3 separate regions of the Homo sapiens genome follow, and regions 1 and 2 are each linked to region 3. The links come from fine-mapping of genetic effects on gene expression. A gene starts in region 3. Each other region holds a variant in brackets. All regions are shown on one strand. Distances are from middle to middle. Region 1 overlaps STX16-NPEPL1 (STX16-NPEPL1 readthrough (NMD candidate)). Region 2 has its middle 6.0 kb from the start of LINC01711. Region 3 holds the start of STX16 (syntaxin 16).

The links. PIP is the estimated chance that this variant, and not a neighbour inherited with it, causes the effect.
Region 1: its variant is fine-mapped to the expression of STX16 in whole blood (TOPMed, PIP 0.91).
Region 2: its variant is fine-mapped to the expression of STX16 in whole blood (INTERVAL, PIP 0.97).

What each region holds. Positions count from the first base shown.
Region 1 is chr20:58,680,369-58,691,161 of GRCh38, forward strand. It overlaps STX16-NPEPL1 (STX16-NPEPL1 readthrough (NMD candidate)), which reads left to right. Exons shown (of 23, transcript NR_037945.1): 9 at 10,666-10,793. It also overlaps a transcript of NPEPL1 not described here. Among named protein-coding and RNA genes, the nearest start is that of NPEPL1, 7.0 kb to the right of the region's middle. The variant T/C (reference allele first, on the strand shown) is at 5,912.
Region 2 is chr20:58,623,406-58,634,198 of GRCh38, forward strand. No RefSeq gene overlaps it. Among named protein-coding and RNA genes, the nearest start is that of LINC01711, 6.0 kb to the right of the region's middle. RefSeq lists an enhancer at 508-802. The variant A/G (reference allele first, on the strand shown) is at 4,186.
Region 3 is chr20:58,646,082-58,656,874 of GRCh38, forward strand. It overlaps STX16 (syntaxin 16), which reads left to right and starts at 5,202. Exons shown (of 9, transcript NM_001001433.3): 1 at 5,202-6,057. The coding sequence starts at 5,926. STX16-NPEPL1 (STX16-NPEPL1 readthrough (NMD candidate)) reads left to right here and starts at 5,172. Exons shown (of 23, transcript NR_037945.1): 1 at 5,172-6,057. LOC107985410 (a long non-coding RNA gene) reads right to left here and starts at 3,554. Exons shown (of 3, transcript XR_005647058.2): 1 at 2,908-3,554. RefSeq lists silencers at 1,412-1,706, 4,105-4,464 and enhancers at 2,394-2,931, 5,961-6,230, 6,068-6,571.

The DNA of each region.
Region 1 (10,793 bases), 34 kb after region 3:
ACATTGAAGAAATCCTCCATCCCGAAGGGGACCACATAAAGGCGGCAACACCTCTTTGGTGACCTCTTGGGTTATGTTCTCAGCTGAGTCTTTGGTGGCCCAGTCTTGAACCAGCACTACAAGAGTATGCAGACGCAGTCTGCAGAAGCATTGCTGTCAGTGGAGAGCTGCAGGATGCCACCAATGACTTGGAGGCATGACTTGCCAAGAGGCCTGGAAGTGGGGAGCCACTGGGGTGTCCCTTTGAATGCTCACTTTGACAGCAGGTAAACAGGCTGGATATGGATTTCCTCTGTGAAATTTAGCAACCATCCTATAAGAAGTCTGATCCTGATCCAACGTTTGAGCAATCTAGAATCCTTCCTGGTCCGTCTGCCATAGTTACGTAGCCACAACAAAATTTACCTAGCCTAGCACCATTTCTATCTAAATCTAATAGGATAGCATGTCATTCTACATGGGGCCTTAATTGTGATCAGCATCCCTTACTCTAGTCAAGCCATGTGGGACCATGTGGAGAGATCTTTTCACAGAAGGGATGTCCCTAGTTGGGTGTAGAGAAGACAGCTCATCACAAAGACTTCCTGCTTCTCTGTGGTTCTAATTCATCGATTAGTTATGGTAAGTTTCCATTCCTTCTAAGATTTAGGTAGGCAGGCCTGGTTCATCCAACATGAACTACATTTCAGAACCTAGCACTGTGCATGCACATAAATGCATGCCTAGAATTGTATATCTTGGCGTATATTAGCTCTTAAAAACTAATTTTCTTGGCCGGGTGCAGTGGCTCATGCCTATAATCCCAGCACTTTGGGAGGCCAAGGCAGGTGGATCGCTTGAGGTCAGGAGTTTGAGACCAGCCTGGCCAACATAGTGAAACCCCGTCTCTACTAAAATATAAAAATTAGCTGGGTGTGGTGGCACACGCCTGTAAACCCAGCTACCAGGGAGGCTGAGGCAGGAGAATTGCTTGAACCCAGGAGGCAGAGGTTGCAGTAAGCCGAGATTGTGCCACTGCACTCTAGCCTGGGCAACAGAGCGAGACTCCGTCTAAAAAAAAAAAAAAGCCGGGCGTGGTGGCTCACACCTGTAATCCCAGCACTTTGGGAGGCCGAGGCAGGCAGATCACGAGGTCAGGAGATCAAGCCATCCTGGCTAATGCGGTGAAATCCCATCTCTACTAAAAATACAAAAAATTAGCAGGCCGTTATGGCAGGCACCTGTAGTCCCAGCTGCTCGGGAGGCTGAGGCAGGAGAATGGCGTGAACCCTGGAGGCGGAGCTTGCAGTGAGCCAAGATTGCACCACTGCACTCCAGCCTGGGCAACAGAGCAAGACTCCGTCTCAAAAAAAAAAAAAACACTAATTTTCTTGACCACCCAGATGCCACTTCTAACCTTGCTGCCTGATGGTTTTAATTCTGTTTTGAAAACAACCTCCTCCCAAGTGATGGGTATTAGAAGGAACTAATGAGAACCCTGGGTGCAAGCAGAGACTTTTAGCACGTATGAAAGTGCTTCTGATTTAGGACTCGGAGTTAGATGGTGGGTGTCAGCTGCGTGTGTCTTGTCCCCAACTCCATGCCACCCTCGGGCAGACGTCATGGTACCAGTCTATGGCCAGGCTTTCTTACTACACAAAGAGACATTCCATGGAGTCAAATGGCAGAGACTTGTGTACAATTATCTGGTCAGTTGAGGCAAAAGAAAATAATCATTTGTCCAATTGTCCAAATTAGCTCTGTGGATTGTCCTGAATGCTCGGGGTAACTGTGTGGTTCTCCACTTCAGTTCCGTAACCTGGCTAAGATGGACCATTTAAATGAGGCTCCATTCAACACAATGCACATTTAAATGAGGCTCAGTTGCAAGAGACCACTGGGCTTAGCGTTTTCAATTTGTCAACTATAATTCTATAATTGCTTTTAGCTAATCATCCAAATGATTACATGTTGTAATGGAGGCAGAAGACCCTCGTATGCATCATTTGGTCTCTTTTTCTCAGAGGAAGTGCTGAAGGATCAAATGTTTTGTGTGTCTCTGTGTGTGTGTGTGTGTGTGTGTGTCCGTGTTTTAACTTGGTGTTCTGACGCACAACACCATAATAGACCTCCATTTTCATCAACGGTGGGGGAATGAGAACAACGCCCCCCATCCCAACATCCCCCTTTTCCAGAGGGGGAAACTGAGACCCAAGTTTCCCTCTTGCCAAGGCCACAGGACTAGAACTAGAATCGTCAGTTTTCTGATTTCCAGATCAGGACTATTTCTGCTTATGCCATTTTAATTTTTCATTTCTTTCCATAAAATTAAATGACCTTCTTCAAGAAAGATTTAATGGTCAAGATGCGATTTGGTAAAAAGCTTCCTCAAGGATTTTTTTCTTATTACAAAGATGAGACTGGCTGAGGCTGAGAGATTTGCAAGCAGTGGTATGTCATTATCCCCAGCTCAGTTTTTTGTGTAATTGGTGTGAAGAGATTGCTGCTGATGAATCAGCCTGCTGCTCAACAGAAAATAATGATTCTTTTGTGACGTGAGTCAGTGTACGTACGTGTACGTTTGTGGTTGTTTATGAAAGGTATGTGTGTACATAAAATGCTTATCAAGATGGATAATGTCATTTTAAAGTGGTAAATAATAAAAAATAGTCCTGAGCAAAACTGATTTTACAATTGCCTGAGAATGCAGCACTTCATTTTAACACTATGCAATGGCTAGAAATTGATTTTTTTTTTTTAAATCCAATTAAGCCTCAAGGTTGGTTATCCATTTAAAAGGTCGGATGAGTTAAACAATGACAGTACCTTCAGTTCGTGCTAATAAATTTGCACAGAACTTCAGCACTTACATCGTGTGCCTCACAGAGGCATACATTTTGTATGTGCACAACACTGAACTACCAAAGTCCCAGCAGTGGTACAGATACACCAGCAGACCCTGGACCCCAACTGGGGGAGTCCCTGAGCTGACCGCCGGCCCTATCACCTCTTCCACTTAGATCCCCGAAGCACCCCCCACCCCAGAGTGCTGAGTCCTTCCATCTACCTGGCCCCCTTTTCTGTGGCCCCAAGAGCACTGGGAGATGAAAAGTTGCCTCTCATTTAAAAGGGGGGAAAAAGATGTATTCACTACTTGGTTTTGTGTGCTGCTGAGTTTATAATGTAACAAATAAATCCTGTTTTAAAAATAGTACTTTATAGTGTGTATTTACTGTGTATTCATAGTGCATTAAGAAAAAGACTTCGGCCGGGCACAGTGGCTCATGCCTGTAATCCCAGCACTTTGGGAGGCAGAGGCAGGCGGATCACGAGGTCAGGAGATCGAGACCATCCTGGCTAACGTGGTGAAACCCTGTCTCTACTAAAAATACAAAAAATTAGCCAGGCATGGTGGCGGGCGCCTGTAGTCCCAGCTACTAAGGAGGCTGAGGCAGGAGAATGGCGTGAACCAGGGAGGTGGAGATTGCAACACTGCACTCCAGCCTGGGCGACAGAGCCAGACTCCGTCTCCAAAAAAAAAAAAAAAAAAAAAAAGAAAAGAAAGAAAAAGACTTCGGCTGGGTGCAATGGCTCACACCTGTAATCCCAGCACTTTGGGAGGCTGAGATGGGCAGATCACCTGAGGTCAGGAGTTCGAGACCAGCCTTCCCAACATGGTGAAACCCCATCCCTACTAAAAATACACGCCCGGCTAATTTTTGTATTTTTAGTAGAGATGGAGTTTCACCATGTTGGTCAGGCTAATTTTGAACTCCTGACCTCAGGTGATCCACCAGCCTCGGCCTCCCAAAGTGCTGGGATTACAGGCGTGAGCCACCACGCCAGGTCAATTCTTTTTACTTTTTAAAAGATCTACATTCAGATACTACAGATAGATGTATAATAAACACAAGGGTGTTTCTGGAAAAAAGGTGACTCAGGTTTTTGAAGATTGAATCATTTTCAATGCTCTAGAGAAACATACTATTTAAAAGGATCCTATAAGTGAAGGTTTTCCTAACAAAAGATTCCTTGATCAAAATAAACATTTAGCTCCTAATTTTGCTTTTCTATAAGTCTCCATTTTCTTGTACTGAGTTTGCTTAAAGGAATGCGGAACCCCATTTGGTCTGTTAATTATTTCTCTTTTCCTTCTCGCAGCCTCCCTATCCAAAGGCTCCAGGTCTTCAACATGTCCTTGAAAACTTTTGCAACTACAAAAATAATTTTGCTGGTGTTCAGAAGTAAATAGAGTTTAGTTCCTGAGACATGAAGGTTATTGCTGTATTACACTGTGCCCTTCCTGGGAGGATAATTTAGGCTGCTAGAATGGCAAGGGACCTCGGAGAGCAACTAGTTCAGCCCGCTCATTTTTTTTTTCTTTCTTTCTTTTTGAGATGGAGTCTTGCTCTGTCGTCCAGGCTGGAGTGCAATGGCATGATCTCGGCTCACTGCAACCTCCGTCCCCCAGGTTCAAGCGATTCTCCTGCCCCAACCTCCCAAGTAGCTGGGACTACAGGCATGTGCCACCATGCCTGGCTTTTCGTATTTGTAGTAGAGACAGGGTTTCTCTGTGTTGGTCAGGCTGGTTTTGAACTTCCGACCTCAGGTGATCTGCCCGCTTCAGCCTCCCAAAGTGCTGGGATTACAGGCGTGAGCCACCATGCCTGGCCCCAGCCCCCTCATTTTATCGAGAGGTCCTAAAAACTGATGCTAGAAGAGACGTTTTTTGTTGTTAATAAATGATTCTGCTGGTACATTTTTATTAACACATTCTCTCATCCCACTGATCCCAGAAAGTATAGACACAGTACATGCAGATGAGGCTACCAAATGTGCTTGTCAAGCAAAGTGCAAAAGATGGCATGTAGTATGCTACCTTTTGTTTAAGATCCATGAATAATCTTATTTTTTTCAAATAGAATCATGAAAGATAAAAGCTAATACAAATGGTTACCTATGGGGGTAAAAAAAGGTTACCTGTGGGGGTAAAAAATGCTACCTATGAAGGATGACTGAGAAAAGGGGGGAAGGGCAGGATGGGGAGATCTTTGAACATTTCCTTTTTATAGGTGTGACTTGAATGATACAAAATGTTATACGTCGTCAAAAAAGAAAATGTAGAAAAAAGGAAAATGGCAAACCTTTCTGTGAAGCACAGATTTATGAACCTAAATGTACATCAAATCAGTAAGCTGCACAAAAATCAAGTATATGTGGAATATATCCCTGGAATATACTCTTAGGAACAAAAAGTTAAAACATCTTGAACTCTGTGTTGTGGGTTTGTTGTCGGGAGCGGAGGCTATTGGTGAGTGTTGTGGGAAACAGAGTGAGAAACCCTAGGAGGGGCTGGGAACCAGGGTCCTCACTGTGGCAGAGGGAGATGCGATTATGGAAGATGGGCAGGTGAGGAAAAGCCCTGTCACGTGGATTTGAATGGGAGGAATCAGTATCAACTCATGATGTTAAAGAAAACCTGATCTTAACAGATCCAAGAGGACCAGGAGCAATGACGCCCAAGTGGCAGGGAGCATGCCCAGCACAAGAGCTTGGTCTCTAACTCTGAAGCTGTTGGCTCTAACCAACCATTCCCCTCACTGAATGGAGCTAGGGTTTCTCGGAGAAATGGCTGACTCTGGATTTGGGTCAAGGAAGGAACAAAGTGAGCCTGTGATCATCTTACTGTTCCAGGAAGGACAAAGTCCTTGAAAATGGATAAGAACACATCAAAAAGGAGCCTGCCTGATGCAGCTCTCATTGGCCTAAGTGGGGACACTTGGGAGCAGTGACGTTTGATGAGATGCACACACGTATGGGCTGTGGCAGGGCTGGCTTCAAGGATGTGCAGCCACCATAGCCACATGGGCCCTGTGCCTAGTTTAGTGCTCAGCTGTTGCCATCTTGAAATTGCTTTTTGAAAGAGAGGCGC[T/C]GCGTTTTCGTTTTGCACTGGACTCCACAAATCATGCTGCCAGCCCTGGGGAGGGGGAGGTCTTTGCTGAAGAACACCAGGTAGTAAGTGTAGAAGGGAGGATAGAGCTGGAAAGTCACTCAACCAATACTTGATTCAGGCAGAAATCATCACTGGATACCAAAGACATTCAGGAATAGATGGTTGAGACCCAGACGGTTCTTAGTCTCAAAGTGTCACTCCATGGATTCTAAAGAGGAAATTATAATTCAATTAATTATAAAAGGGGGAAATGCACTTTTACCATGAAGAGATCTGGCAGACCCCACTTGCCCAATGATGGGGGACACTTAGTTTATGTGCCTCCTGATGAGGTTCGATGGGAACCATAACCCGTATTTTTGCCAAAAACGTTCAACCCAAATCTAAGAAAACAGACGAATCCAGATGGTGAGAGCTTCTGTAGGATATACCAGTGCATGAAAGACAAGGGTAAGGACTGTTCTGGATTAAAGGAGGCCAGAGAGGCTTCACAGCCAAACGCAATGCCTTATTTGGATTCTGGATTTAAAAAGAAAAAGCCATGAAGGACAAGGGGACGATTAAAGTTTCATTGCAGACTGTATACTGGATAATAGTATTGTTTCAATGTTAAATTTCATGGGTATGATCAGCATATGATCATGATTATGTTGGCTGGTGTCCTTGTTCTTTTTTTTTTTTTTTATACTTTAAGTTTTAGGGTACATGCGCACATTGTGCAGGTTAGTTACATATGTATACATGTGCCATGCTGGTGCGCTGCACCCACTAACTCGTCATCTAGCATTAGGTATATCTCCCAATGCTATCCCTCCCCCCTCCCGCCACCCCACAACCGTCCCCAGAGTGTGATATTCCCCTTCCTGTGTCCGTGTGATCTCATTGTTCAATTCCCACCTATGAGTGAGAATATGCGGTGTTTGGTTTTTTGTTCTTGCGATAGTTTACTGAGAATGATGATTTCCAATTTCATCCATGTCCCTACAAAGGACATGAACTCATCATTTTTTATGGCTGCATAGTATTCCATGGTGTATATGTGCCACATTTTCTTAATCCAGTCTATCATTGTTGGACATTTGGGTTGGTTCCAAGTCTTTGCTATTGTGAATAATGGCGCCATAAACATACGTGTGCATGTGTCTTTATAGCAGCATGATTTATAGTCCTTTGGGTATATACCCAGTAATGGGATGGCTGGGTCAAATGGTATTTCCAGTTCCAGATCCCTGAGGAATCGCCACACTGACTTCCACAATGGTTGAACTAGTTTACAGTCCCACCAACAGTGTAAAAGTGTTCCTATTTCTCCACATCCTCTCCAGCACCTGTTGTTTCCTGACTTTTTAATGATTGCCATTCTAACTGGTGTGAGATGGTATCTCATTGTGGTTTTGATTTGCATTTCTCTGATGGCCAGTGATGATGAGCATTTTTTCATGCGTTTTTTGGCTGCATAAATGTCTTCTTTTGAGAAGTGTCTGTTCATGTCCTTCACCCACTTTTTGATGGGGTTGTTTGTTTTTTTCTTGTAAATTTGTTTGAGTTCATTGTAGATTCTGGATATTAGCCCTTTGTCGGATGAGTAGGTTGCGAAAATTTTCTCCCATTTTGTAGGTTGCCTGTTCACTCTGATGGTAGTTTAATTCCTTTTTTTTTTTTTTTTTTTTTTCTGAGATGGAGTTTCACTCCTGTTGCCCAGGCTGGAGTGCAATGGCGCAATCTCGGCTCACTGCAACCTGCGCCTCCCAGGTTCAAGCGATTCTTCTGTCTCAGCCTCCCGAGTAGCTGGGATTACAGGTGCATGCCACCACGCCTGGCTGATTTTTGTGTTTTTAGTAGAGACGGGTTTTTGCCATGTTGGCCAGGCTGGTCTTGAACTCCTGACCTCAGGAGATCTGCCCGTCTTGGCCTCCCAAAGTGCTGGGATTACAGGCGTGAGCCACCACGCCCGGCTGGTGTCCTTGTTCTTAAGAGATACACAATGAGGTAGGGGTGTATACAACTTACTTTAAATGGTACAGGGAAAAATATGTGTACATACATACATATACATATACACATATACATATACATATATACATACACACACATACACATATACGCATGTTTGTGTATATAGAGGCATACCTCACTTTACTGTGGCGGTCTGGAACTGAACCCAGAATATCTCCGAGGTGTGCCTGTATGTGTGTATATATGTGTGTGTGTGTGTCTATGTGTGTGTGTGTCTATGTGTGTGTTTGTGTGTATGTGTGTGTCTGTGTGTGTATACATGTGTGTATGTGCGTATATATGTGTATGTGTGTGTGTGGTGTGTGTGGTGTGTGTGTGTGTGGTGTGTGTGTATGTGTGTGTGGTGTGTGCGTGTATGTGTGTGTGGTGTGTGTGTGGTGTGTGTGTGTGTGTATCTGTATATATATGTATGAATCTAGGTGAAGGGTATACAAGTGTTCATTATACTAGTTTTTCATCTTTTCCAAAAGTTAATGAACTTTTCAAAAAAGTTTCTAGAGAAATGTGTTTTCATGGCAACGAGTTCTCTTTCCTCCCTTCAGGGAACATTTAGTGCAAATCTAGGTGGCATGTCTGGTGCCAGTTGCAAAAGGCAACGGAGGCCCTCCCTGCTGTGCAGGCACTCAGGTTGCAGCAAGGGACAGCACAAACATCCACAACGCAGGGCAGCATTCAAGGCGGTCGTGCAGCTGTCACAGTTTTCACTGGTTGTGGGCTCACTTCTCAGCCAGCTGCTCAGGGAGGTCCTTGGAGCTGAGCCTGCCTCTGCTTCCTCTGGGCTCACGAGCAGGTCATTCTGAAGCAGGAAGGAGCCCTTCCTTGCTTCCACTTCAGGCCTGCCTGAGGCACTTCCACTGGTCTCCAGTTACTTGCAAGGTCAAGTACAACCTGCAAGGTCAGTATATATTTTATGCGCACTTTATATCTGGCACAGGAGCTTTTCTTTTTCTTTCTTTTTTTTTTGTAGAGACAGAGTCTCTGTCCTGCAGATTGGAGTGCAGTGGCGTGATCTCGGCTCACTGCAACTTCCGCTTCCCAGGTTCAAGTGATTCTCATGCCTCAGCCTCCCGAGTAGCTGGGATTACAGGCATGCACCACCATGCCCAGCTTATTTTTGTAGTTTTAGTAGAGATGGGTTTTCACCATGTTGGCCAGGCTGGTCTCAAACTCCTGGCCTCAAGTGATCCACCTGCCTCAGCCTCCCAAAGTGTTGGGATTACAGGCCTGAGCCACGGGGCCTGGTTCCACATGAGCTTTTGACAGTGCCAGAATGAACCATGTCCTTTACTACTTCAGGCCTTTGCATGAACAATTCCTTGGTCAGGGATCAGACTGCCTGACACACTTTAACCGATCCCTCCAGGCCCAACTCAAAAGTCTCATCGTAGTCCAAGGGGCCTTCCCTAACTCAATCTTCTCCCAGTGACTGGATCTCTGGATTTTACTGTTCTACTTGCTTCCCCTTCCTCCTCCTGGCCACACACACATATGCGTGCACATGCACAAACACACACACACACACACACGCTATTGCGTCCCCAAAGCCTCACGGGTCCTGTAGCTTTTCAGAACTGATGTTCAACAAATGTATGTCAAATGAATGAATGAATGAAAATGCTAGAAAATACGAAGCAGATGCACCGAGGAAATGTTTCTTTGAAGTATCGGATATAATGGAATCTGAGAGCCTCGTGGCAATCAGCTGAGTCTAAGCAGGCATTAGGTTTTATAGGGGTGAAGTCTGACATGAAATTAACATATAAATGTAGATTTCAAACACCTAGAGCCATCTTACAAGATAGGATTTCAGAAATGTGTCCTAGAATGTGAACTGTACCAAAAAACATCCTAGTAAGTTCTAGGAGCTTTATTCTGATTTGTCCCAGAAGTTTTTAATCTTTTCTTCAACTTTGGAGCAAAGTCTGAACATCCAATTGAATGTGGAATAGGTTTCAAGCCATCAAAAACATAAGTTGATTTTTGGGTTGCATTAAAGATCTGGTAATTTGTTTTAAACTTTCATTTTTTAAGGAAAATTAAATAGAGTTGAATTTTTCATTGACAGTGAAATATATAGTAAGCCATGGATTAATACCTTCATAAAAATTTATCTAAACAAAGTGCTGCCTGTCTTATTTATGTTAAAGTCTGTAAAGTCAGCAGTGAAAAAGGGAAAGTACTTTCCTGGAATGTATTTGTATCTGTCACAAGCTGAATCTTGAGGAAATTGGCAGGCATTTGAAGTGGAATAATTCCTTAGCGTTCTGTTTAGTTTGGATTTCTTCAATTCGGGGGTGGCTTAAAACCAGAATCACCAATATTTGCTTTTAACAAGCATCTAACGTTTTCTCTTGCTTTGTGTACACTAAGTGCTCAACAAATGTTGGTTGAATTGAATCATTTTGTTCATCCTTTCTGGGGACTGTCAGGGTTATTCAGTCTATTCTTAAATATGAAAGAATTCTAAAAGAAAAACATCTCCAAAATGACCTCTCCACCAACAGTTTATCTCATTTCCAACTCCTTGTACACAAACCTGCTAGATCTGGCTTTCTGAAATGCTTCTTGGATCCCTCTTCAGTTTGCAAAATTCTATAGAGTGAGCCAGGCTCCCCAGTCGATCTCCTCACCCACTCCTATTTTCCAGGAACCTTCTGTTCTAACCACACAGGTTTCAGAGCCTGCTGGACATATTCTGCGTCTGTGTTTCCTCCCAGGACTTCTCCCACGTGGAAGGCCTTCTTTCTCAATCTCTTCGCCTGTGGAAGTCCTATTACATCTGTCAGGGCATGGCCTTAGTCTCTCACCCTCTAGGAAGATCCTCCAGCTGTCTCAGTCCTCTGGA
Region 2 (10,793 bases), 23 kb before region 3:
GTATGAGTGTGTGTGATGTGTGTATATGGGTGGGTGTAAGTGTGTGTGAACTGTGTGTAATGCGTGTGCATTGGAGGGGGTGTGTGCACATGTGTATGAGTGTGTGAGATAGTGTGTGATGTGTGTATACTGTGTGCACGTGTGTGTGTATTGGAGGGTGTGTGTGCATGTGTGTATGTACCAGTGCGTGGGATAGTGTGTGAAGTGTGTGTGAACTGTGTGCATGAGTGTGTGCATTGGAGGGTGTGTGTGTGCACCTGTGTACAAGTGAGTGTGATAGTGTGTGTGAAGTGTGTGTGAACCATGCGCATGAGTATGTACATTGGAGGGTGTGTGTGCACATGTGTGTACGAGTGTGTGTGATAGCGTGTGATGTGTGTGTATACTGTGTGCACATGCATGTGTGCACTGGAAAGTGTGTGTGTGCACCTGTGTACGAGTGTGTGTGATAGCGTGTGATTGTGTGAACTGTGTGCACACACGTGTGTGCATTTGGGGGGTGTGTGCCCTCCCGTGCCCTCTGCCTGAGCGCCCCATCCTCCATGTACTCTGTCCTGCTGGGGTCTCATTAGTGTGCGGAGGGCGTCAGAGCTGGCCAGAGCCGCAGAGCCGCTGACTCACGCAGTGTCTGGAGTGAGTCACTGGCTGAGCCGGAGGCTGCGGGGGCCGCACTCAGCCGGAATCCCTGCTGGCCTCCTGTTCTCATCCGCCCGCTCTGAGTCACCCACACCTATGCTTCGGGCCGTTGTGGAATTAAACTCTCCTCTCCTTGAGGACGATGGGAAAGGGATTGAAGAGCCAGTGGACGCTGTGCCCAGCTGGAACCCGGGGGTCCGAGGGCAGACAGATGTGCTCCCAGCACTGCTCTTCTCAGAAGCTCCGTGGGCTGTGGGCCAGGCTCGAACCATTTCCAGTCCATGTCTCTGGGGTGTCCCCCAGATGCGGGCAGTGGGGCCTCTCTGGCCTTGCTTGAGGCCTGAGACTCTGGGAGGCTCTTCATGGGAAAAGTTGCCCCCATCCCCACCAGGGGCAGCCACCCTCCACAATGGGTTGCTCTTCTGGGCATGGTCCAGAAGCTTCTAGAGAGAAAATGGCAGCACCAACCCCCGACCTCATGAAGCTGACGGTCCAGGGGGAGGGCAGACAGCAAACAGAAACAGACAAATAAGAAGAAGCAGAGCCGACATCAAGGGGCCGTGCTTCATGTGTTTTCAGAGCTACTAGGACTGCCTGGAATGACCATCCACGCTTATTTGTGTACTGAATCAAACCCCATATGGTCAGAGCCATGCTGATCTTGCTGCGTCTCTGTGTTGAGTACAGGGCTTGCATACAGTAAGCACTCAGCAGATGCATGCTGAGTGAAGGCTCGTGTGAACAGCAAGGCAGAAAAGTAGGTGCAATGGTGCAAGAAAGAGCAACTGGGAGAGCTGCTGAAAGAGGGCATCTGAGCAGAGGGAGCAGCCCGAGCCGAGGCCCTGGGGCAGGAACGTGCTTCCATATTCTAGGGAGGTCGGCAGGGCTGGAGAGCAGGGGGAGGCGGTGAGAGGTGCGCTTGCAGAGATGAACCTGTAGGCTGTGATCGGGAGGGTGGATCTTGATTCTCTCCTCCTGATGGGTTGTTCTTCTAGATGCGGCCCAGAAGCTTCTAGAGGAAGATGTCATGGAGCACCAGCCCCAGACTCTTGTCCATCCTCAGAAAGCAGGAAGGTGTGATTCCACGTGCATGCCTGTTATCTGTCAGCTGGTGTTAACGTGCCCACCAGCAGGATGGAGGCCGGCTCGGAAAAGAAGAGCAAGTTTGGAAACATCCTTGAGGGCCAGGGAGCTGGGAAGAGCATGGTAAACGTGAGTCCTCTGCTCTTGGCTGAGCCCAGACCAGACTTACATCTCCATCATTAGGGGCCTCCTTTGGAGACGAGAGAGCAGGCAGAAAGCCTGCCCTGTTGAAAATGGACCTATGTTTTCTAGAAGAAATAGTAGCAGCATAATGACTCTTTAGTGTAGGTAAAAATGTGTTGCCAACACTTAGCAAGAGACTAGGCACCCAGTGACACGGGAGAGGTAGGTTTGGATGAGACACAGCTCAGAATTGTCCAGATCACAGATTGTTTGGGAAGTGGCCTAGTGGCTGTGAGCCTTAAGGGTGACAGCGGAGAGGGCCCCTAAGTTGCACGTCTCAGTGTGACCCAAGGCAGGCCCACCTTCCTGGGTGGCGTGACCTGCCCTGCCCTCCCCCTCTGCAGCCCGGCCTCACTGGCTTCCCCTCAGCCGGTGTCCCTGCATTTTTCTATCACTGCTGGGACACGGTTTCCCCACCCTTCCCACATGCTTTACAGATGTTGGCACCAGCCTGTATCCCTGGCCACCTGGCAGTCATTGGACCTATTAAACTGGAGTTCACATGCAACACAGTGGTGCTTGGCTGGGGTCCCTCCCTCCCTCTGCCTGCTCCACCGGACTGTGAGCTCTGAGTGCAGATGTACTTCCTGTCTCTGGAAACCCAGCACCTGGAACAGTATCTGGTGCAATGTACGAGGTCAATAAATAGCTGCCAAGATGGGGATAGGTGATCCCATTTTATGGATGAGGAAAGTGAGGCCATGTGGGCAGAGCCCTGTGTTCCTTCTCTCCCACTCAAGTGAGATGCCCAGGGTACTAATTTAAGGGGGCGCTCACCTTCAGAGTCCAACCCTGTGCCAGCACCCCTTGTGAGTGAGTGCCACCTTAAATATGATACCTTGCTTGCCTCGCCCTTGTCCCACCCCAGAGAGGAAGGAAGTGAAGGGCAGAGGGACAGTGGCCAGGCAGCCGCTAGCCCAGGGGGCTCTCCACCCAACTCCGGAAGTACCCAGGCTGCCCTAAAAGTCCTGAGATGAGCTCACTCTGTTCATCACATCCAGATGCCACTGTGCAGGGAGCAATCAAGTCAGCCATTTCCCCCAATAAGCTTGACTTCAGGGGACTGGAGGAGCTATTTGTAGCACTTTTAAAACCTTTTATAGATCAGTGTGTTACCACTGATGACAGTGGAAGAAATGCTGCTATTAGAGGCAGGAGCTTTAAGAGGTTTGGGTATTGGCTATTTCTGATTGGGAATGCCATGCTGGGAATCAATGCTCCATGCGTCCTTGCAGTGCTGCGTGAGGAGGCCACACGTTGGCTTGAGCCTCCCTGCCATGCACGCTCCCCTTGGCTTGGTACCCCCCTTGACTGAGAACTTGGGGTGATTTTCTCCTCTGTAGCCAAGCCAGAGCCCCCCAGGCTCCCAGCTCAAGGCTGACCGAAGCTTGGTGTTAGGTCCGGGTTTCTTGGGGGTGCATGAGCTGCTGGCGCGTCCGCAGTCGGAGGCTGCTTTGTCTCTCTCGCTGTGTCTTTTCCTCTTGACTCTCTTGTTCTCACTCCCTCCTGCTGTGTCTTTGCCCTTGTGTCTGCTCTCCCTCATCTTCTTTCTCTTTCTTTTGTTCTTTCTTCTCCTCCTTGCCTCTCTTTTTCTTCCTTTCCTTCCTCTTCACAGAGTCCAAGAAATTCTAAGGAAATGAGAAGTGTGGGCTCATAGGTTTCTCACCTTGACCATCCTGGCTCATGCTGAGAACTGGGCTCCTTCAAAAGGCCTGTTGCATCTGTGGAAGTGGCTCTTCTGGAAGAGTCTGTGGCACCCATGGACAACAGCAGAGTGCGGCCCTCTGAGACCATGAGACTCATGTGATTCCTAATTCCACTAAACACTATGGGTTGGGTGCCAGCTACCTGCCAGGGGGTCCTTTTCTTGGAAGGAAGCCAGACACAGCTCCAGGAGACTGTAGTGCAAGATGGAGGAGGGCAAAGCCAGTGGAGGAGCTGAAGAATGACACCCAGTTCCAGTTGAGTGAACCAAGATGGCTCCAGGTGGGGTTGGCCTTGGAGTGGGCCAGGACAATTGAGTGGGGGAGGTGCTCATGGGTATGGCAGTGGTGACGGGGCAGAGAAAGTCATTTGAGGAGGAGGTGAAAAAGGGAAGTGGATAAGAAGATTTAGTCTTGGGTTCAGATCTTGGTTTCACAGCTTTCTGGCCATGTGGCCTTGCTCAAGCCGCTTCCACTTCTGGACCCTGTTTTCTGGCAAGTGAAAGGGGACCTACCTTGCAAAGGAATGGCATAAGATGACGTTTGTTGTGTGTTTGTCCCCTGCCTGGCGTATCCTCAG[A/G]ATGTGGTTTGTGATATCTTTATGAACTTGCCAACAGAGGCAACCTGTGCATGCGACATCGCTGGGCGTGCAGAAAAGCCTAGAAAGCTAATCCTAGAAGCTTTTGCTAATGAGCACTTACTGTGTGCTAATGAGCACTTATATGACTTATATGTGCCAGGCAGCATTCTACAAGCCGTGGGTGTCCTGCCACTCAGTGCTCATGACAAGGACTCAATGGGAAGGATTCACCACCATGATGCCCACATGGCTGAAGAAGTGGATCCCCTGAAGGGAAAGCGGCCACCCAGCAGCCCCTGGAGCCGGCGTCCTACTGGGCATGTCAGCTCTGGAACCATGCTCCTCTCACTGTGGTTTTTGCTTCCCTATTGAAGGGCTTTGGGGGCCAGATGAGGGGTTTGGGCTCTATCCTGGCAGGAGGGGAGAAGGGGTGGGCAGCCTCTGAAAGTGTCTGTGGAGACCAGGTCCAGTCTCATTACTGGTGGCCAGTGGGGCAAAGGGCCTTGGGGGCTGTGGAGCAGCCACTATTGCTCCTGTTTCTAGGAACTTCTCTCTCTCTCCCCAACCTCATCACTGAGGAGCATCCTGTCTAGGGTTTCTGGAAGGCTCTCTTCTTACTTCCTTCCAGCCTCATGTCCTGATGGCGTTGTGTGCCAGGGGACTCACGGAATATTGTTTTCCTCTAACGACTCAGACAACTGATGAAATACTTGGTGCCTTGTTCTCCCTAAGACCTGTCCTCCCAAGGGCCTGCTTTCACATGGCTGCCAGGGCCTTCAATGCCGAGTCCGTGTTCCTCGGGGACCATCAACATGTGGAACTTATTTTTAATTTAAAAGAACAACAGACTCCCCAACCCCATTCCCCTCCCCCGCTTGCCTCCCACTGCTGCTCCTGGCTATGCGGTAAACACCAGGCTCTTGCTACCTCTCAGCTTTGCCATCGTGTCCAGCCTGGAAATTCTTGCTGGGCCATTTTCAGGGGCCAAGCCAAGGTCCTGGCCAGACCAAGGAAGCCCATAGGCACTTCAGCCTTCCCCATCTCTGCCCCCTGCATCCCTCTGACTTCTAGGCAAGCTGACCCATGCCACTCCCTTCTCTAGCAGCTGTCCTCTGCCTGTCCTTGGGAGGGCTGTGGGAAAGAACACCATGGCCCAAATCTTTAGATGGTTTGGACAAAAATTAGAGGGGATTCAGTCGAAGAGTACCTGCTGTCCCAGCAAGGCTGAAGCCTCCCAGAGTGTGAGGGTCTCATCCTGCAGACACCACCCCACTCATGGCTGCTCCTGTCCAGACCCTGGGATGCACTGTTTGACTTTGTCCTCATCTCAAGCCCACTTTACTTGTGGAGAAACTGAGACAAAGAGGCTGAGTAACTCGTCCGAAGTCCAGTGGTATAGGCCGGACTTGACCCGAATTCTGACCCCAAAGCCTGGCCCTTGACTGCCCCCTAGCACTGCACTGGCCAGGATTCCATGGTGGCCACTTTCTAATACTGCATCACAGCGCGGGGAGGGGCTCCAGGATCACTTACTTGCTCTTAACCCTGGCGACAAGGATGTGCTTTTGCAGATGTTGGTTTGTTCATGAGAAATTCGAGTCAGATTTGAGGGGGAAAGAGGAAAAGAGAGACACAGTGTGTGTAGAGCCATTATGTCTAATTCAGCCACCAACACACTTCTCTGTGGGCCTCTTCTGGCTCCAGAAGCCCCCTTCCCAGCTGTGATGTCACCAGCCAGCCTCTGCAGATGACAGCCCTGTGATTTATCATCAGCCACCTGCTTTCTCACTGCTGGGGACAGCCAGAGCCCAGAGCAGCCCCCACTGGGCTGGGCAGCAGCTGCCCCCTGCCCCATTGCCGCACTTCCAGGCCTATGAGCTTTTTGAGATTGTTTGCATTTTGGGAAATGCCAGTCATCTCTCCCAAATCTGCAGATAGCAGCATCTCACCATCCAGGGTTGGAGTTTCTAAACAGTCAGATAACCTTGCTCACAGAGAAACAGCCTGAACACCATTTACAGATAGCGACAGGATTTAATGAGATAAAGCCTTGGGCATCCATGAACCAATTTTTACGAGCCGTGATGAAATGGCTGTTTTCTTAATAGATACCCAAACAGAACACAATTCAGGGCTCTGAGAGCTTCAAAGGAACTTCTCAGCTCTAGCCTCTTGAAATTTCGGGCAAAATCCAAACACGTATCAGTCTTACCACCACCATGAAAATGATATGTTTTTGTAAAATTATGTGGGACCTATCTATCTGCCAAGGGAGAGATGGCCCAGATGCTTTTGGGACTCCAAGCCAGTGTCTTCAGCCTTTTCTCACATGATGTGAACACCAAATTCCAGTGCCACTTTCTAGAGGGGAGATTGCAGATGGAAGGCTTGTCCTGGAGAGGTTGAAACAGTGGGAAAGGAAATAAAGAGCATGCTCTCGCTCTTCCTCCAATTCCCTGAACTAGCTGGTTTCCTGAAGACTCCAGTGTGGGTAGACTGTGGCAAGTGGGTGACTGAATACTGACCTAGTCCTTAAAAAGAAAAAACGGTCAAAGGGCACCCTTCCAACCCCCACTGTGTGACAATGACCTCCTCAGAGAGCAGCCTTATGGGCCCCCTTTGAAAGGGCACAGTGACCCCCCTGGTGTCTGTCTGTTCTGCCCTGCTTGGAGAAACGGCTTCCTCCTCTGAGTTCCTAAAACATTTATCATCCCTATGATTTGCCAGGCAATTAGTCATGCCCTGCCTTGAGTATCTCTTCTATTGTTGTATCAAACGGCTGTTTAACCCTTATCAGCAGTGCAGTTTTCAATATCTTGTCTTTCTAACTCGATGTGAGCTTCCAGAGGGCTGTGCAAATGTCCACCCATGTCCGTCTCCTGTGCCCATGGTCCGTACACGTCTGGTCATCACCGTCAGAGGGTAGGACTGTGTCCTGCCTTTACAGGTAAAGTGTTTAGCATGCAAAATGCTTAGCACAGACACTGGCACCTCACAAGGGCCCAAGAAAGAGCCACTAGTGTTTACCTTGTTATTCATATTATTATCTGGTATACAAGAATAGCTAGTGAGCACCCTCCATGTGTGGGACACTGTGCCTGGTGCTGCTGAAGCCACTTGAAAATGGTACCTGTGAATTTCCCCAAAGCCATCTGGAATCAAGCTGGAAACTCTAGCTCTGTTTCCTACTGAAGGGAGACACGTATCCCCTCAGTGAGAAGTCTTTTCTTCAAAGGCCCTTGGTCGGTGTCAAGGATCCTTCGAGTCTAGGTGAAGTTGGTTGGTTTGGTCTCCAGAGCGGTGTGTGAATACAAATACAAATACCGTATTCACAGAATAGAGGATTTGTAGGTGGAGATCCTTGTCAACCTCTCCCCCAAAGTAGTCAGAGAAATGCCAGAAGAGAAGGAGCTCTCCAAAGGGGAGTGGGCTGGGCTGGGGGAGCTCAGAGCAAACCGTACCCATCATGGCTGGAACTCACTCGTGTCCCAGCTACTCCTCTCACTGGCTAAGGAATAAGGTGAGACAGTACAGAAGGTTGAGGTCGGAGAGCTGGGTGGATTTAGGGAGATACAGAGATGGAAACTTTGCTGTGGTCACGTCAAGTCAGACGATCTGATATAACTTCATCCACATCAGCCTCCACCTTCTTTATAAAAGCTCCCTCTGGTTCCTGTGTGGAGAATGTTTAGGGGTACAGGAGGGAACCCAGAAGTCCAGTGGGGGGCCTTCACAGTGGCCCAGATGACCTGGATTGGACCAGGGAGGTGGGGGTGGGCAGGGCAAAGGAGAGCAAGAAAAGCCAGGACCTTCTGAAGCCTTCCTCCTGGCCCCCTGGACCCCAGCTCAGGGTCTCTCCACTCCCTCCACTCCCCTTGTCCCCAGTCCTCCTCACCCTGTATCAGGGCTTCCTGTTAGCATGTTTTTGGCCTCATGGATGGGGGGCTCCATGAGGGCAGAGCCTTGGTTTACTTGTCCCTGCTCACTGACCCTAACAGGAAGAAAAGGAGGCCTGGTCTTGCGTACCCTCCAGGCTGAGCTCCTCACAGTCCCTGCATCTGAGGCCTGTGACAGTCAGGCCTGGAATGAGAGGAGAAGGCTGATCTCCCAGGCTGTCAATTGTTCCATTCTAACCCAAGCATTCTGACCCATGCTGCATTCCCGCCTGGGGTTTATGACTCTCTTTGAGTCCACTCTGCAGCCCACTTCCCAGCAAAGCCTGGTTTGAGGGCAGCTGAGACCAGCCCCAGGCCCCAGGAGAAAGGAGACCTACATCTCCCCAGAAGACCCCAGCCCCGTGGACAATGGATCCTCTGTCAGCCTGCAGCAAATGTTACAAGGCCCTAAAGACACTCTCTGGCCCTAGTGAGACTTTAAGAAACAAAACAAATTTTTAAAACACACATACACAGCAAAATACAAAGCGAAAATTGATGATGGTGATGGAGACGATAGAATCCAAGGTGACCTTATCTTCACCGGGCCCCAAAAGAAAAGAAATGCAATGTGTGGCCTCTCTAAAGCTATTCCGGAAAGTGAGGGGGCGCAAGTAGACCCCACTGAGAAGGAGCTCCATGCCAAGGAGGAGCAGGGCTGGAGGCGTGAGGACCACCAGGAGGACTTGAACAGCAGCAGTCTGGCTGCCCATGCTGGCCTCTCTTCTGGGGTCCTCTGGGCCTGCGGGAAGTCCTGGGTACCCAGGGACATCTGCCCATAGCCAGCCAACGCCCTGATGACCCTGGGAGTCCCTCCAAATTCCATGTCCACTGGAACCTCAGAGTGAGCTTATTTGGAAATAAGTTCTTTGCCGATGTCATTAGTAAAGGATCTTGAGGCGCAATCATCCTGGTTTTAGGGTAGGCCCTAAATGCAATGATGGTGTCCTTCTGAGAACAGAGGAGGACAGAAGACACATAGGGAAGAGGGCCATGTGAGGACAAAGCAGCGATGGGAGTGATGCGGCCAGAAGCCAGGGAATACCAGGAACCAGCACCATCCAGAAAAGGCCAGAAGGATCCTCACCTAGAGCTTTTGGAGGGAACGTGGTCACACCTTGATTTCAGACTTCTGGTTTCTAGAACTGGGCCTGGGCCAAGTGAATACATTGATGTGTATGTTTTTCCATGTCAAGGATACATGATTTGTGGATGATTTTCTAGCCACCAGCCAGTGGGTTGGCCACACCAGTCCTTGCCTCCCGTGCTTACCTAGGGAAAGCGGAGCCCCCACTGATTGGGGTCGGGGGAGATGCAGAAGTAACTTCGCAGAGGACCGATGAGCTCATGCCGGGGACACAAGTTGCTGTGCGGCTTTCCACAGGGGAAGAGTTATGGGCAACTTCAGAGCAGCAACCAGGATTCGGTAAAATACTTTTAACGCAAAGTACTGCTCTATAGTGACCTGAGAGCCCTGGCCTTGTGGCCGGTACTTCCCGTGGAGACCACTGCAGGTGCACTCATTCTTCATTCTTTGGACAAATATTTGTGGAGGACCTAAATACGCCTAACACTAGATATTAGGCCCACCATGGTGAGCAGGCCAGGCTGGCTCACATCCTAGTAGAAGAGACACATATGAAGGAAATGAACAAGGTACCAGGACAGAGACTTACAGGAGAGAGTGTGGCTGGAAGGCTTCTCTGAGGAAGGGACTTGGGGACTTGAAGGACAGGAAGGAGCCAGCCATCAAATGAGCTACGGTAAGACCATTCCTGGCCGAGGCAGCCAGAGAACAGAGTCCTTGAGGTGGGGAAGGGCTTGGCCAGTTCTAGGCATGCGCCCAAGGCCACTTTGGCTGGAAAACGGTAAGGTCTGGAAGGCTCCGGTAAGGAGTAGGAATTTGGCACTGTCTCACCTAGGAGAGGGGAAACTGCTAACGCAATGGCACATCACCACCTCCAGGAAGTCTTTCAGGGTTGCCTTTGTGGAGGTGAGCCGCCATACCACAGAAAGCCTGGGCCTACTGTCATGGTCTCAACTGGCCGTCATCATCTGTGACTTTGCCTCTTAAGATTCTTTGTATTATGAGGGGTGGGTGTCTTCCCAAAGGCCTCTAATTCTCTCACCGCCACTGCTGTAATGACCTCCTAAAGGTCTCTAATACTCAGAATAGCAGAATAGGGTGACATGTGGGTGATTGCTCTGTGATGTCTTTTACACCATTGATCACCAGGATCCCTGTGGCACATCTGGCTAGTCAAGTGGGTGGCCCCTTACCTCCCAGAGCCATATCACAGAAAGCCCTTCCCAAGGAGGAGCAGCCCAGAGCTCTCTGTCAACCAGCATTCTGAAGCGCCACATGTGGTGATGGTTTAGCAGTGTCTGCTAGGAGCATGGGAGGGGAGGGTGGGGTTAGGTGTGCCATGCATTTGCCCTCCTTCCTAAAAGAACCTCCTTCCCCTCCCCAAAGCCCCATATACTTTCTAGGTCTTAACCCAGTGGCATATACATGATAGATGTTCAAAACATGTGCTGTTTGATCGATAGTGTATTCAGCAGTCATTTCGCAGCCTAGTGACTGCGAGCTCGACTCAGAGAGGGAGTGACAGTGACGGGGCAGAAGCACGTGGCTGCCAGATGGGCGATGGGAAATGTTCCGCACACAGAAGT
Region 3 (10,793 bases):
GTGAGAAGGAGCCAGTTATTTGAAGAACCTAGGAAGGAGAGCAAAGCAGGTGCTAAGGAGGTGTGAGGAATGGTGGGAAGGCTAGTGTGGCTGAAAAGGGGTGAGCGAGGGGGACAGAGAACTGCCCTAATCTCTCCACCCATTTTGAGTCTTGACTGTCTGGTATTCTCTAGCACTTAATATAGTTAATCTCACCTTTTGTGCATTAATCCATCCAGTCATCCATTCCGCAAACATTTATCACACCTGACAGTGTAGGGGGTGCTGTCTTCAATGAAGGGTTCACCAAGCAGAAGGGGCAAGACACATCCCCCGCCACTACCCCCACCAGGCAGAGAAAGGCCTGTGAGCCAAGTCCTGGAAAGAAAAAAGCTCACCATTTAGGTGGGGCCTGTTGGGCAGGGCTTTGAATGCCCAGGGGGCACTCCGCCATGTGGAAAGTGTAGAAAACCTAAATGCAGAACTCCAGGAAATACTGATCTATGGGAAAAAAATTGTACTGAAATCCATGATTCTGGAATAAATCAGATCTAGTCTTATACTATATTCTAATACAGCCAAGTGGTGGCAGGGACTGAAGGTTTAAGAGAAAGCGAGAAGAGAAACACTTAAGATGGAGACTACTCCATTAATTAGCTTCATTTTTTTTTTTCTGACAACCAAGAAAAGTCCATCATTAGTTAATATTAGTGATGCCCAGCTTGGTTCAACTTAGAGCACCTGTTTTCTGCTGAGCGTCATTTGAGATCGGCTGGCATGGGCCAGAGGGAGCTGTTTCAGGGCCTCAATCAGGCAGTGACATGATCAGATTTATGCTTTGGAAAGGTCACTGTGGCTGCAGGATGAGGAGGGAAGAGACGGGTGGTTGTTAGCAGGCTGCTGGGAAAATGTACACGATGAGAACCAGAATTTGGGTAGAGACAGTGGAGATGCAAATTCCCTGAAGGCAAGAGTTTTGCTGTTTCATTCTTTCAGCAGTGCCTGGCAAGAGATAGGCACAGCCACTGGTAGATTTTTAGAAATGCCTACTGTATTGAATTGTCTGGTATTAAAAGCTACGGGACTCCAGACAAAACAAAAGTGTTGCCTCTCTCCAGAGTCTCCCTTCTTGGGAGAGGCATCATAGCTGAAGACAGACCCAGATAGGGAGTTTTCTGTTGTTGGAAATACTCAAGGTTTTGAGGAACTATTTGGGGACACAGAACACACAACTCCTGTTACCCGAACCTGGCCCGAATCTGTCTGTCAGATCTGTGCAGACGAGACATATGTTAGGCCTGGGGGCTTTTGCTGCTTGATAAGCAAACAACCATCTGTCTTTCTATAGGTGGGAGAAAGACCAATGTTAAAAGGTGTCTTTGAGATGGTTTAGCCCCCTCTTCCACATGAGTGTGCACTGCAGACACATCTGGATTCCCAAGGTCCAGAACAAGAAGCTCGGAAACGTGCTTAGATTTCCAAGTGTTCAGTTCTCAATACCATGCCATTCTCTTTGGAGTTTATGATGCCTTCCAGGGAGAGCAGAGCCCACGTGAGCTTTCCAACAGTAAGACTACTGCTGTAATAAATCATATTGCCCATTTGTGGCGCACTTACTCTATGCTGAGGTTGTATAAGGGCTTACATGAGCCCTATCTCATTTAAATTGTTTTCACCAAAGGGTGTGTGTCCCACTGCTGACCTGTTGAGCTAACCATCCCCTCTCAGTACTTGAAAACCTGCACCTGCCCAAGCCATGGCCTGGCTTCAATGGGGCTTCCTCCTGCACTGAATGAGATGACAAGAAAACAATGAAACACTTGTCCCCAAAAGTGACTTATTGGATTCGTTGGCAGAATGTTAGAAAGTGGGTATGAAGCCCAAGAAACAGGACACGGAGCCTCACCAAGCCCGAGGAGTATTACCGAATCCTAGCCCAGGCCAAGAATGAGTCACAATGAAAGCTTTTAAAATGTAAAACCATCAACCTAGATTTCAATTCCAAGGAAACACATACTTGGCCATGGGGGAATGCTTTAAAAAAAAAAAAAAATCAAGCTTAAGTCACTTGACAGGAAAATAAAACAGCCAAGGAACATTCAAATATAATGATTTACATCCTTCCCCAACTCCCTTCCAGTGTGGGTCAGGGCGAACATGGACCATGGACGTGACTGGAGCCAGGGGTGCATGCCCTCTCTGGGCTCCCTCTTGGTTAACACTATTTCAGGCACACAATCCCATACCTAAACACAGCCTGCTTAGAGCTGCACCGTGCTGCCTTTGGGGCCTGGTCAGAGCTGCACGGTGCTGCCTTTGGGGCCTGGTCAGAGCTGCACGGTGCTGCCTTTGGGGCCTGGTCAGAGCTGCACGGTGCTGCCTTTGGGGCCTGGTCAGAGCTGCACGGTGCTGCCTTTGGGGCCTGGTCAGAGCTGCACGGTGCTGCCTTTGGGGCCTGGTCAGAGCTGCACGGTGCTGCCTTTGGGGCCTGGTCAGAGCTGCACCGTGCTGCCTTTGGGGCCTGGTCAGAGCTGCACGGTGCTGCCTTTGGGGCCTGGTCAGAGCTGCACGGTGCTGCCTTTGGGCTGCTATGCCAACTTCTTGGATTTTCCTGACCTCCCCGCTGTTAGGCTCTTGGGTTGCTTGGGGTGGCTGTTTTGGGAATACCAGGATTTTTCTTCCATTATTTGTGTGCAAGCAGTGTTCATTTCGCTCAAAGAAATGGAAGCTTGATTGATCTCCTAAATGTAAGAATGAGATTGTCCTGTAATAAATATTTAAGACTGACCAGGAAAGGCGACCACCATCTGCTGAAACACAAGACCAGGAATTACTTTGCTAAGCTTCCTGAACGGAGGGAATGAATGAATAACCATCCTATATAATATTTGCTCAGCACCTGGTAGTTTACAAAGAGTTTTCACTTACCTTATTTGATCTTCACAATAACCCCAGAGAAGTAGACAGGGCGCGGATTACGAGGATTACGAAAAACCCACATTTTTTTCTTTTTTTCTTAACAGATAAGGGCTCTAAAGGCTTAAAGTCACTCGAGGGAGGTCAGAGAGTTTGGGGACTAAATCTCGAGTCTCTCATTAATTCATGCACATATTTAAAAAATATTTATCCGGAGCCTGTTCCAAGCCAGATGAGATGGCAGTGGGTACAAAGATGAATAAAACACTGTCCCTGCGTAGGAAGAAGATCACGTTCTAGCCTGGGGGAGAGCGCCAGGAAAAGTAAACAGGTCCCCCCCTGCTTTGTGAGGTGATGAGTGCTGGGGAGATAGGAAGAGAGTGGGGACCATGTTTCTAATCTGATTCTCCTACCGACGACCAGCTCAGTTGTTATTTACAAATACCTGTCCCCTAAAGGGGGGAGCGGGGTTGGGGGGGCTTGGCCGTGCTGCTGGGGTCAGAGCTCGCAGGGGGGTTCTGCCGCAGTGTGGGGACAAACTCTCCCTTATTGGGCAAATATTTCCCGGGGCGCTACGCTAAGCACACGGGCTCCCCGAATTTCCCTCCCCAGGGCCTCTCTGTCTTTGGATGGCCTGTCAGCAAGTCCCTGCAGCCTCCAGCCCGGCCCGCGCGGCGACCCAGTCCCCTGTCGCCCGAATCTTCCACCGCTGCGAAGCGTCCCCGGGCGAGCGCCCTGCTCTCCGCGCTGCGCGGAAGCCAGAGCCGGTCCTCACAGTGAACTCGCCCAGCCCTGCTCGCGGCTCTCTCGATTTTATGTGGGTTTCGTTGGATGCATTTTGTTATTTGCCTCAATGGATGTTTCACATTAATTTTTAGTTGCACAACGAACGCGCGGGAACATTCTCCGTGAGAGAAAAAGCACGGGTGGGGGGCGGTTACCGGTGCTTCCCCCGGTCGCCTGGGGGTCCCGCACGCGCCCCGCGGGTGCCGCTGTCTGGCTGGGGTCCCTGGGTGAGCCGCGGGCACCGGCTTCGCGTCTCCCCGGGCGCGACTCCGCTTTGCAAGCGCTCAGCACACGGGAAACCCTCGGAAAACACACACGTGTGTAAAGTTTGTTCCACGCAGAAACAAAGGACGCGTGGGGGCCGCTTCTGGGGCCTCGGTCCTTTGTTGGAACCCCGCACCGCAGCCCGGCCCGCAGCCTCGCCCCGCAAGGGGAAGCCGGCCCTGCACAGGCCCGGGGCCCGGAAGGCGCCGCCGCACAGCTCTGCGCCCCCGACCCGCTCCGGCCGCGCGCTGGGCCAGGCCCTTGGCCTCAAGCCTCCCGGGCGGCTCCGGGCCGGACCCGGGTCTCCGTCGCGGGACGCCAGCCTGTTTGTGGGTGCCGTGCTCGGGCCCGGGCGGCCCCTGCCCGACGCGGCCCCACGGAGCCCCTGCACGAACCCCGCCGACCTGGCCCGGGGCGGCAAGTCGAGGTGCTTAGGGCGCCCTGGGCCCGGCCAACCGTGGAAAACCCGGCCCGGGGCACGGGGGGGCGCGGGGGTCGCAGGGCCAGGGCCCAGGCAGGGAACAGAGATTTTTTTCGCGGGGAGGGGGGTGGGAGGTGTCAAAGTTTTCGGGGAACTTTTCCACTTGAGATTCCACGACCCTGCAGTGCCCCCTACAGAAAGCGGCAGCTGGGGAGGGCGGGCGCCCCCGACGACCCCCGACTGCCAGCGGCGGCGCGGCCAGGCTGCCTGGAGTTCTTGTTCCTTTTTTTTTTTTTTTTTTCCTTTTATTTCCTCGTGGTTGTTTGTCGGATACATCTTTTTCCAGAGTGGGAAAAAAAAAAAAAAAAGCGAGCGCCGCCGCCTGCAGTAGAGCGTGCTCGGCCTGCAGAGGCAGTCGTCTCCAACTTTTCCTCTCCCGCTCCAACTCCCCGCGCCCAAAACTTCAGTTCTTGGGGAGCCCAAATTTGCCTGCCGCGCAACTTCCACTCTAATTCAGCGACCAAGGGCCCTGGCAGCGGTTTGCAGCCTGGGGGCCACGCTCCCCAGGCTCAGGCCTGCTCGTTGGCCTGCTCCTAGTGCCTGGACCCAGTTGGGGGAGGCGAAACAGGGCGCCCGAGGAGCACCCCGGGAGAGGGCGGAGCACTCCCGTGCCCCGGGGCAGGAGTGCAGGGAGCTCCCGCGCCCGGAACGTTGCGAGCAAGGCTTGCGAGCGTCGCAGGGGGGCACTCGCGAGGGACGGACAGGAAGAGGGCCAGGGGGGAACGCCAGAACCCGGGACCACAGCACGGAAACGGTCCGGGGCTGAGCTGCAGTCAGATCCGGGGATGGAGGGAGCCGGAGAAGAGGAGTGAGAAGGCCGGGGAGGCAGGCCCTGCTGTCTTCCTGCAGGCCGGCAGCCTGCTGGCAGTGGAGGACCAGGCCGTCCAGGAAAGGAAGGGGTCAGGAGGTCGGGCAGGGCCTCAGCAGGTTCAGACAAGTCCCCAGAAGGGAGCTGCAGGCGCCCTCGAGTCCAGGCCCCAAGCCTGGCTCCGGTTGTCCAAAGAGGGCCTAGGCCAGGCCTCTGGTGCGGAAACTGAGTCACAGCCAGACCTCAGGGCACGGCCTAGACGCTTACGAGCCAAAGTTAGGGGTAGAGAGCAGAGACCTCCGGGGGGTCTCAGGGAGTAGGGGGCTTCAGGGCCTCCCAGTCTAGAGCCGGATTGGCGAGTTAGACGCTTGTAGATCCAAGGTTGGATTGGGGTGGGGTCTCTGGGACGTTGGATCGCTACGCAAGGATTGGGGGGATTCAAGTGCTTAGAGATCGAAGTCTGCCCTGGGTAGGGGGAGTCAGACAATTGGAAAGCCTAGGTAGTTATTTGGGGAGGGGTCTCTACGCCTTGGCGAAGCGCACAGCTGCATCTTTTTGGCTTGAGGCCTGAGGCCTTGTCGAGAAGCTTCCGTGAAAGGGTGGGCCAGCCGGGCCACGAGAAAGAAAGTGAATAAATCAGGAATATAAGTGGGCGGGGGGCCCCTGAGAGGGGGGTCGCAAAGGGTGAGACATGGCCACCAGGCGTTTAACCGACGCTTTCTTGTTGTTGCGGAATAATTCCATCCAAAACCGGCAGCTGTTAGCCGAGCAAGTGAGTAGTCACATCACCTCCAGCCCTCTGCATTCACGTAGCATTGCTGCGGTGAGTCTCCTGGCGGCCTCTCCGACACACGGACCGTGTGCACTGCGGCTCTGCCTGTTTGTCTGTCTCTGTCTGTCTCTCTGTTTAAAAAGAGAAGATAAGAATAATAAGACTAAGAATAATAAGATCTCTTGGCTAGAGTCAGGGGGCATCTGTAGCCCTGGATGAGGAAGAAGCGGTGCTGTGAGGCCGCAGCTCCACCTCTGCCCGGTCTTCTCCTCACTTCCGCAGCACCCCCCCCCCCGCACCCCCCGCCTTGGCGTCACTGCGCTACAGGCCGCCTGTAATTTACATATGTTTTAACGCTAACATTGGGAAGCATTGGGCCTTTCTGAAGCCTTTTTGTTTCGTTTTGTTTGAAGCTCCCCTCCCCCCAGTAATGAGCCTCAGTTTGGTCCTAAGGGCTGGGTCGCCGGATCGTAGACCCAAATCCTTGCAAAATGAACGACTCCCTCCCCTCAAAGAGGAGGGAGTTGTGTTGTTGTTTTGTTTTGTTTTGTTTTTCCGCCCGTTTTCTTTTAACGGCCCCGCAGCCCTCTGTGTGGCCTTGTTCCCTGTGAATAATTGCCTCACTGTTCTTCCTGGGGGCTTGCGTTTGTGAGACTCAAGGTGCTAGCCTCTTCACTTTCCATTTCCCAGACAGGAAATTAAGCTTTCCTCTCCATTCGAACTTTTTAAAAAAAGCCTGAGGAGGTATATGTGAAAATTAACCCCGTAAAATAGCACTTTTTTTTTTTAATTAACCACAACCTTTAGTTAGCCTAGCAGTAGCGTTTTTTAAGGGTGGTCCTGGAAAAATTACTGTTTGGGGTTTGTTTTTAATGGGGGCTACTTTTCCCTTTCTGAGCCTCAGTTTACTGCTCTGTTAAATAAGGGGCGAGTCTGGATGATCTATACCAGACAGTGATCGTTAGCTCTGTAATGTCTTCAATTGAAAAGTGAAGTTATGAAACTGGCTGTAGTTCAGGCTACCTGCTGTAGGCAGACTAGGTTGGAATAGAAGCAGCGTTGGAACAGGCGGGAAATAGCCATCCCAGGACCACATTCTTGGGGGTTATACTTGATATTAGGCAATTTTGGAACATTCATTTCACCTCTTAGGGACTGTATTGCCAGTTTATTTTTTTCTTTATGGCTTTATCTAAATGCTTCAGGAAAATTTTGCCATATGTCATGATTATCATGTCTACAAAGACAGTTTCTCCTTTTTGTAAGTCACAGGTGGAGAATGTCTTTGGCCATATAACTGATAGAAAAGTCATTTTAAGCCGTGTGAGCGGTTTCAGGAATAAAAGCATGTAAACTCAGGTCAAACAGCCTAGAACTAGGGACAGAGTGTGTGTGAGATTTCAGTTAATTAAGAAGTTGAAGGGTTTTTTTTACATTTATAAACGGAAAGGAATTACATTATATTGAAATAAATGTAAAGATGTCTGGTAGCATAGAAACAGGCTAATTCTAGCGCTAATTTTGAAGAAGAAATAATCCAAGAAATCGAGTAGAAATTGGATGAATTCAATTCCTTAATGGAACTTCAGTAATGTTAAATAAGAACTGCATGTTCCTTAAATGACTTGATTTTGTGCTGCCTCAAAAACTACTGAAACTCATATTAAGATTTCTAAGGTATCAGTTTTAATTGAAAAACATATTGTTTATTTTTCAATTTTTAATCATTAAGGTTCAAAATACCCTGAACCTTTGGGTAACATGAGGGTTTTTTTTTTTTTCCCGATTAAGTCAGACAGTTTAAAAACCTAGTATCTGAGACGGGAAGCTTTTTAAAAGTGCATCTCTGAATCAGACCACTTTAGAAAATTATTTTCTAAGTTAGGCAATTTTAAAAAATATTTAAGCTAAGCAGAATAATTAAAAATGGATAGTTAACGTATACAGTTTGGAAAAATAGATATGTCAGGGTATATACAGATACATTTAGCTAACTCACAGTTTTTTGAAAATAGATTTCTAAACCCAACTAAAAATACATTTCTAAGAACGTTAAAAAATGTTTTCTAAATGTCATACCATTGAAAATGTTAATATTTATATTAGTCTGACCATTTAAAATCTTTCTCAGATCATTGAAAGCAGTCATATCATTTAAAATATCCTTATAGTCAATCCATACTATCTCAAAAATAGGTTTTGCAGTCTAACAAACATAGTTTGCCTGAATTCAAATTTAAAAATAAAACACAGATTTATATATTTTAATTGTGTTAAAAAATGGCATGTCATAAATTTCTGAAGTATTTAGGGTTGAAGTGTTACATCTTCACTTTGCTTACAGGTGATTCGTAACAAAATCTATTCTGCACACAGTACGGCGAAATGCTAACAAGACTAAATAGAGGTTATGATTTTTTCAACTTTTCTGGAAGTTGGAAAAGCTTTATAAACATTTTGAAGCAAAAGCCATGTTTAACACAATTTGTAAAATCTATTGAGTAACTCTTAGCAATGCTTTTCACTGCATATCTAGCTCACAAAAAATTTAAAGCCTTGTTTCTGACTTGTAAATTTCAAAGCCATGTAGCAAACCAAACAAAATCGTATCTGTCAAATTTTGAATATGGACTAGGTATTAGGTGACATTAAGGAATTAATTATAATACATTACATTTGCTAATTTTATTAGAGATGCCTACTGAAATGTTTAGTGGTGAAATGTCAAGGCATCTTACCTAAGTCCTTAAACCCCTCCAAAAATAGAGGAAGCAAATAAGGCAAATTGTTACTCATTGTTAAGTCTAGTGATGAGTATGTGTGCGACATTTTACCATTTTGTAGGCTTTTCTGCATGTTTGAAAATTTTTAAATAGAAACTTAAAGTAAGTATATTTGTTATAGTAAAGTAAAACAGTTAAAAAGAGGCAATTTGTAAATACATGTCTAACACTCAGGCAATTTGAAAGGAAGAAATTAAACCTAAGTTTAACTTAATTTAAAAAATAATAACCTGGAATTTTAAGTTTCCAATTAGAAGAAAAAGCTGTAGACTTTGATCTTGATGCATTTGATACCAACTAAAAATACACCTAAAATAACAGACTTTTTAAAAAAAAAATTGTAATCCTGAATTTTGACATCTTATTTCAGGAAAAAGCTGCAGAAATTAATTGCAGAGTAGTGTGTATCATACACCTCAAAGCAAAGCACACCTAAAGCCATGCCATTCAAAAAATTTAAACATGCATTTTTTGCATCCTAGTTTGAGGGAAAAAACTAGAATTTGGTTGTTGTAGTGGGGTTATTGTGTGTCCCTGTGCGTGCATACAGGGTTTTGCAGCATTCAGGCAAATATGTCAAATAAACAGGAATTTAAGGAGGATACGCAGTGACCAGATAAACACAAAGCCTCAAGGGCCAGAAGGAACCTAAAGGTCATTTGGCCTAATGTCCCCATTTGTGATAACCCCTCATGCCTATCTTATTTGGCCATGGTGTATGACAATGATGGAAAATGCCAGCAGCTCCATGATTTTTACCACTAAAAAGTCTTTGCCTGTTAATCCCAACTATTTGTGTCCTGGGGTCCTGCTTTTAGTTCTGTTCCTTCGGGTCTTCCTTCTGTCTGGTAACCCTGCAGCCTTGTTACCCAGAATTCTTTCCAGGCCTAGCATTCCCGGCTCAGAGTGGTTATGCTTTTTTCCTATAAATGATGTTTAGTTTTTCTGTATCCTTTTTAGATTTCAGCATCCAGAACTGAGCAAAATTCTACTTTTTTGTGTTCTTAGTTGTATTAAAGTTAGTAAAACTAATTGTAAAAAAACAGACAGGTTTGACTTTATGCACTCCTAACAAAATACAGTCGTATTTCCCATGCATTTTACTTTGGCCTCAGTTTTGAGTGCCCCATCACGTTCATGCCTCAGGGCAGCATGAAATAAAGGAAAGAGCACTGAGAATTGAATCTGAGAATTGAGGCCTAAGTCCTGTTCTGCTGCAGGCTCAGAGTGTGTCCTTAGGCAAGCCTTTAATCTTTTCGGACATTTTTTGCCTCATTTGTAAACTGAGGGGTTTGGGTTAGGTGATTTCCAGCAGCCCTATCGATTCAACAGTATTTTCTCAAGTTCTGTTTTAATACATTGTTTCTCCTGACTTTAGCTTTAATTTGAAAAGGAGAAATTCATAGTCAACAGTGTTGTAGCTGTCAGTCCAAGGTTACTGACAGAAATCCTTAGAAGTAGCCCCAGTACTGTGCAAAAGTAACTTTCACATTATTATGCCAGCCAAGTGCAGGTTTTAAGGTAGCAACTCATTCAAGCAGCTTGGCTTTAGGAAACTGAAATGGATTTATGAAGCTAAACAATTATTCAAAACAAATTGTAAAGTCATAAAGAAATGAATGAAAGGTAGATATTGAGATGCTCTTCTGATCTGATGAAATTCTGTATGGATTTGTGTGGTTTCCTTCGATCTCCGGGAATGGATCTAATATAGGGGTTGGAGCTACTTTGTTAGTGTTTACTGCCTAATCTATACTCTGCTTTAAAATAATGCATAATCTATAATTGGAAGCTAGCGTTAATTGGTCTTAGATTAGTTTGAAACATAAGCACATTATTTTTAATAAAATGTGTGCTTTAGGAAAAAGGAAATTAAGGATTAACTATGGTTATAAGAAACCTGAGGTCCTTATTCAGGCTTGACTACAATATTAGCTAAGATTTATGGAGAGTTTACTTTGTGCCTGGCTCTGGGCTAAGCCCTTTCCGTGTGTAAGCTCAGCT